Regions from separate parts of the Homo sapiens genome. Here region 2 is linked to region 1. The links come from fine-mapping of genetic effects on gene expression. A gene starts in region 1. The other region holds a variant in brackets. All regions are shown on one strand. Distances are between the middles of the regions. Region 1 holds the start of HM13 (histocompatibility minor 13). Region 2 overlaps HM13 (histocompatibility minor 13).

Region 1 (2,902 bases):
GTTGTGGAGGAAGGGAGAGGGTGCCAGGAAGTGAAAAGTCATTGGTACAACGGGCTAGAAAGGGCTTAATATAGGGAAGAAGTGGGGCAGGGAAGGGGGAGGGAGAAGCAGAAGGTGAAATGTGCTGGAGTCCTCCTAGTTATCCAATAGGACAGATGTTGAGGAAGGCCAGGGATGGAGTCTGGCCCAGTCTCACAAGAGGGGCCAACAGTGGCCCAGCAGACAGGCCCAGTTTGGTGGGGGGATTGTCTTGGGGGTATGGGGAGAAGGGCTACTTTGAGATAGGGTCAAAGGCTGGGTGGGAAAAGGGTTACAGGTTAGGAACAAGGTCTAGGTTTTGACTAGGCCATGTCCAAGGTTGGATGGTAGTTAAGAGAGGAAACCAGGAAAATAAGACGTCCATGCCTAGTTGGAAAGTAGAGGCACCAAGATGCCAGCTTCTGAGGAGCCAGCTGACTGGGATGGTTCCAGAAAGTGATGTGAAAAACTGGGCTCTAAGAGATCATTGTTTTTGAGGCAGGGGCAAGGGCCAGGTGTGGGGGATCTAGGTGAGCACATAAGGTGCCATAGATTCCAGTGAGACAGGAGTCAGAGTCTAGGGATGGGTCTGGATGGTAGAAAGGGCCCTGCGGTGGGCTGAGGCAGGGTTCCTAACAGGGAATGACACGAAATTGTACCATTCAGTAAGTTGTGAGGACCAGTATCCATCAGGTATACATGATGGGGCTGATCTGCCTGGGCCCAACAGGCTCAGAACAATCAGTGCCCGAGTCGCAGTGGGGGACGGGCTGACAGCGTTCCCAGCCGCGGCATGATGCACAGGGAGGGAAGTGTCAGGGTCCGGGTCGGGAGCAGAAGCAAGTTCCTATTGGGGAAGGTATCATACCCTGGTCGGGGGTCGGTGCCCAGATCCCGGGGTAGGAAATGCCAGCCCCGGAATGTGGGCCCGAGACAGAGGGAACGGTGGTGATCAGGGCTGGGAAGAGTCAGTGTCCGGGGAGAGGTGTCTGTCCCGCCTAGGAAGGGTCCATGTCGGCCGTGTTCGGTATGGGGGTGGAAAGTGCCCGGTTTTCCCGCTGACCCTACCTTGCCGCGGGCGCAGCGTACGGAGCGCAGGGCGCCGAAGAAGATGGGCAGCAGCGCCATGAGCAGGAGGCTGCCGTAGGCCAGCGCGATGCCCTCGGGCGTGGAAGGCGGCCGCGTAGTGCTGTTGGTGGGGCCGCCTGCCTCGGCACTGCCGTTATGCGGATCGCTGAGGGCCGAGTCCATGGCGAGGGTGCGTTCGGGATCCGACTCCAGCTCCGGTTGCTGCAGCAGGGACGCAGGCGGAGACACCGGCTCTGCAGGGAAAGCCACGTTCCCCTAAGGCAACAGGAAGTGACGTGCTCCCTCCCAAGCCCGCGCCGCGCACGCGCGCACACACGCTTGCACGCACGCGCGCGCGCGTGCACGTCTCCCCGCCCGCTCGCCCTCTAGCGGTGGCCGAGGGCCGGGCGGCGGGTTGCTAAGCAACTTGTTAGCGGTCCGGACAGGGGCTCTGGGCCACTGCGGTGGGCATGCGACCCGAATGCCCATTTCCCAGTCCCAGCCGGTCTCCTCAATCCCCTGCTGTCCACTCTCCGCAAATCCTCATATTCCGAATAACTAAGAATGTGTTTATTCATACATGCATTTATTGGGTATCCAATTGTTTATTCACTCCTTAAATATTTATTGAATGTCCCTCAATATGCCAACAACTGACCTAGGCTCTGGGGACACTGAGGTGAACAATACAGGCAAAAGTTCCTCCTTGCCTTCGTGAAGTTTGCATTTTAGTGCAGTGTGTGTGGGGGGACGTTGGGAAGACAATAAAGAAACTGAACAAAATAAAAGTCTGTAAAATGGGCTGGGCGCAGTGGCTCACGCCTGTAATCCCAGCACTCTAGGAGGCCGAGGCGGGTGGATCACCTGACGTCACGAGTTCGAGACCAGCCTGACCAATATGGTGAAACCCCGTCTGCACTAAAAATACAAACAATTAGCCGGGCGTGGTGGCACGCACCTGTAATCCCAGCTACTCGGGAGGCTGAGGCAGGAGAATCGCCTGAACCCGGGAGGCGGAGGTTGCAGTGAGCCAAGACTGAGCCATTGCACTCCAGCCTGGGCAACAAGAGCGAAACTCCGTCTGAAAAAAAAAAAAAAAAAAAAAAAAAAAAAGGCCAGGCGCGGTGGCTCACGCCTGTAATCCCAGCACTTTGGGAGGCCGAGGTGGGCAGATTGCGAGGTCAGGAGATCGAGACCATCCTGGCTAACACGGTGAAACCCCGTCTGTACTAAAAATATAAAAAATTAGCCGGGCGTGGTGGCGGGCGCCTACAATCCCAGCTACTTGGGAGGCTGAGGCAGGAGACTGGCTTGAACCTGGGAGGCGGAGGTTGCAGTGAGCCCACTGCACTCCAGCCTGGGCGACAGAGTGAGACTCTGTCTCAAAAAAAAAAAAAAAAAAAACAAGAAAAATTTGTAATTTGTAAAACGTTAATGTATAGTTATGTGTTACATAGCATGTTAATGCAGATAAATAGAGAAAAATAAAGCAAAAGAAAGTAAGGTGTGTGTGGAGTTTGCAAATGTATTGAGAGCCTACTATGTGCCAGGCAATTATAATACCTTACGAGTTCATGCCCCTGTACAATTTATAAAGCTTTGTGGCTCTTTTCAGAATTTGAAGAATCTGTTTATTTATGTGATTCTTATTTTTGATATTGTTAAAAAAGTTAAAAATATATATTTTCTTAGACATGGGGTTTTGCCATGTTGGCCAGGCTGGTCTCAAACTCCTAGGTTCAAGTGATCCTCCTGCCTCAGCCTCCTAAAGTGTTGGGATTACAGGTATGAGCCACTGCTTGCAGCCTACTGTGGC
Region 2 (2,902 bases), 54 kb before region 1:
CGGGTGCAGGGCTGGCCAGGCACTGGGGTGGGCACCCTTAAGGGGCTTGCAGAAAAGATTTTGGGTGGGCAGGTGAGACCTAGAAAACCCAGGGCAAGACACTGGGTGCTTAAACAGAGAATCTTCCAGGAGCACAGTGGCCCGCCCTGGCCATGGGATGAGTTTTTAATGTGAGGCAAAATCAGTCCACAATACAAAATCTAAAAATCACACCCACTTTTCCCACCTGGCTCCCGGGGAGGGGGGAAGCTGGGGGTTTCTTTTGCCTGCAGGGTGTGGGGAGGAGCAGAGGAGGGCCAAGAAAGGGAGAAGGAAACAGAGGCCACAGAGGCCTGGCTGGAGGTATCCTGCTGCCCCCTGCCCTGTCCTGGAGCTGCCCTTGGCCTCCTGTGCCCTCTACCGGTGCACGCCTGTGTGGGCCCAGCCCCCATCTGTCTGGTCTGGCCCTGAGAGGCTCGGGCACCAGCTGCATCATTTCTCTTTCTTCTCCAGCCCCTTCGATGCTGATGCCTCTGTTCCCTCTTTGGATTCTGTCACTGCCGCTGGATCCTTAGGATTTGACTCCTCATAACTGACCAAAAAAAAAAAAACAACAATAAAAATTCATTTAGAGGAGAGGGTGAGCAGAACCTTGGTTGTCCCCTTCCCCCACCCCCATCCTAGGAAAGCGCCTGGTCACATGCAGAGCGTCAGCCCTGTGTCCACTGCCCAGCACCTAACAGCGCCTGGCCCCAGCCCTACCACATGCCCTCCTCAGGCAGGCTGCTCTGCTTTCTCTGAGCCTGGGGGTACCAGGAGGCAGCAAGGGCAGCAGCCAATGGAAGAGAGGTTGGGCCTGGGCTTGTGTGGGCTGATTTCAAGCTTCCTGAACCTTCTGCTGTAGCGTGGAAAAAGGGGTGGCCATGACAAGGCTACAAGAGATGGAGATAGGCTGCCTCCCAGGGCACACAGCATGAATCAAACAGCTCAGCCCCAGAGGTGAGGGCACTGCTGTACTGGCAAGCGGCAAGGTGCTGCTCTGAAGACAGACACCCTGGCTTAGCTTCTTCTATGGGCTTCATTTTTCAAGCAACTGAGTTCATGCCAAAGATAATACAAATCTTTCCTCACCAGAT[A/C]AACCCCGTGAGGCAGGAATGTGCCCACTTACAGATGAAGAAAGTAACTTGCCTAAGGTTATACATATACCTTGAATGGTAACAGTATCTACTACTGCATGACAAGGGCCATTTCCATCCACTATGATGTGGGCCCCGCATTACTGGTGAGGGCAGGAAGCTTCGGGGTTGTCCTGCTTCCCAGCCCTATGGCTCGGTGCAACCACTGCCTGGTGGTTGTGGAGGAGCTGCTCTTGCGGCCTACTCCTGGCAATGGTCCCTGCCCTATGCACTGGAGCTGCAGTGTCTGCCCTACCTTGGGCCCCGGGGCAGTAGGGGGAAGCGGGCAGGTGGGCACCCGCTGGGCATTACATGGCGCTGGGATTCTGCGGGCGCCGGCGGCGAGGGCCAGCTAGCTTCTGCTGCATGGAGTCGGCCAGGCTGGCTGGGGAGCCCGAGACTGTGGGGAAGTGGGTGAGCCTCGGGGTATGAGGCAGGATTTCCGCCGAGGACTCGTAGCTGTGTGAGAGAGAGAGAAGAGACAGAAAAAAAGAGATGGATAGGGAAAGACTAAGGGAGGACAGAGACTTCCTTTCCAAGGAGCAGAGAGCAGAACTGTCTTGTTTTTACCTATTTTTGCACTTCCAGATTTTATGGAAAGAAGCTGATATTATTTGGAGAATGAAAAAAGAAAGATGCACCTAGACAAAGGCACATCAGGCCACTGTGCAGAAGAACAAGCATGCTCTAGAAGTGTATGTGCTGCTGTGGAAACACCTCTAAGAAATACCGTAGAAACCCAATGTGCAGAATGCTCCAAGAATGCCACCGTCTGTGCAAGAAAAAGTATACACACATCAGTGCACAGGTGTCTGAATGTCTGTGTAACACTGCTGGCCTCTGTGGGGTAGCTGGAGCATGAGGGTGCTCTCTCTGTTACAGCTTTGGAATTTTTAACTATGTGAATGTGGTACCAATATAAAAATAAGTAAATCAATAAAAAAAGGAGGAGAATAGAAGGGAAAAGTAAAAAGGTGGAGAATTGGGAGAGAAATGGGGAGAAAGGAGGGAGAGAGAGAGAGAGAGAGATCACTTGCTTTTTACCCCAATCTAAGAATGTCCAGGGTGGGAGTGGAGGGCAAACAGTGGGGGCAGGGTACCTGTATGGCAGAGCATTTAGCACCAAGCAGGTAAAGGCCAGGGGCACCCTCTGCCTTGTGTATTCAGAGCTTTGCCTGATGAGGGCACAATAGCATTGGGTGGTTACCCCAAGGGGAGGGGCAGGGAAACCTGGGCTGGATGGGAAGCAGAGGGAGGGTGAAGGATGGGTGCTAAGCTCAGGGATCGGGTGCCATGCCTGCTCCCAAAGCTCCCTGAGACCTGTCCCCAAGTTCACCCCTAGCCCCCACTTGCCTCAGACCACAGAGCTTTGCTGGGCGAGGCAATGTGGGCAGGCAGGCGGGGGGCTGGGGATTCTAGACAGGACAGGGAGGGCAGAGGCAGGTCCGGGGGAGGGGTGAGTCACAGGCTCCCCTGCGGGGAGCCAGGTGCACAGGAGGCCCTGGCAAGCGCTCTAGGGACAGCTTGGAGGCCAGGCAGGTGGAACTGGGCGGAAGGCACCCGAGTAGGCAGCTTTAATCGCAACTGACAGCTATTTCTAGGTCCCTGGCAGGCAGGGTCGGCAGTGCTGGGGGCAGACACCTGTTGGAGTCACGCAGGCCTTGCGGTATGGGTGGGGCTGTGTGCAGGGTGTGGTAGGTGTGGATATGGCCCTGGGGAAGGGGTATCTGTGTGAGATACAGATATAG

What was found. PIP is the estimated chance that this variant, and not a neighbour inherited with it, causes the effect.
Region 2: its variant is fine-mapped to the expression of HM13 in whole blood (INTERVAL, PIP 0.99).

Annotation. Positions count from the first base shown.
Region 1 is chr20:31,512,919-31,515,820 of GRCh38, reverse strand. HM13 (histocompatibility minor 13) reads right to left here and starts at 1,379. Exons shown (of 13, transcript NM_178581.3): 1 at 1,087-1,379. The coding sequence starts at 1,269. RefSeq lists a silencer at 713-782.
Region 2 is chr20:31,566,789-31,569,690 of GRCh38, reverse strand. HM13 (histocompatibility minor 13) reads right to left here. Exons shown (of 13, transcript NM_178581.3): 12 at 1,467-1,613; 13 at 148-571. The coding sequence ends at 472. HM13-AS1 (HM13 antisense RNA 1) reads left to right here. Exons shown (of 3, transcript NR_046853.2): 3 at 1,743-2,104. Among named protein-coding and RNA genes, the nearest start is that of HM13-AS1, 5.0 kb to the left of the region's middle. RefSeq lists a silencer at 1-85 and enhancers at 2,739-2,878, 2,152-2,902. The variant A/C (reference allele first, on the strand shown) is at 1,116.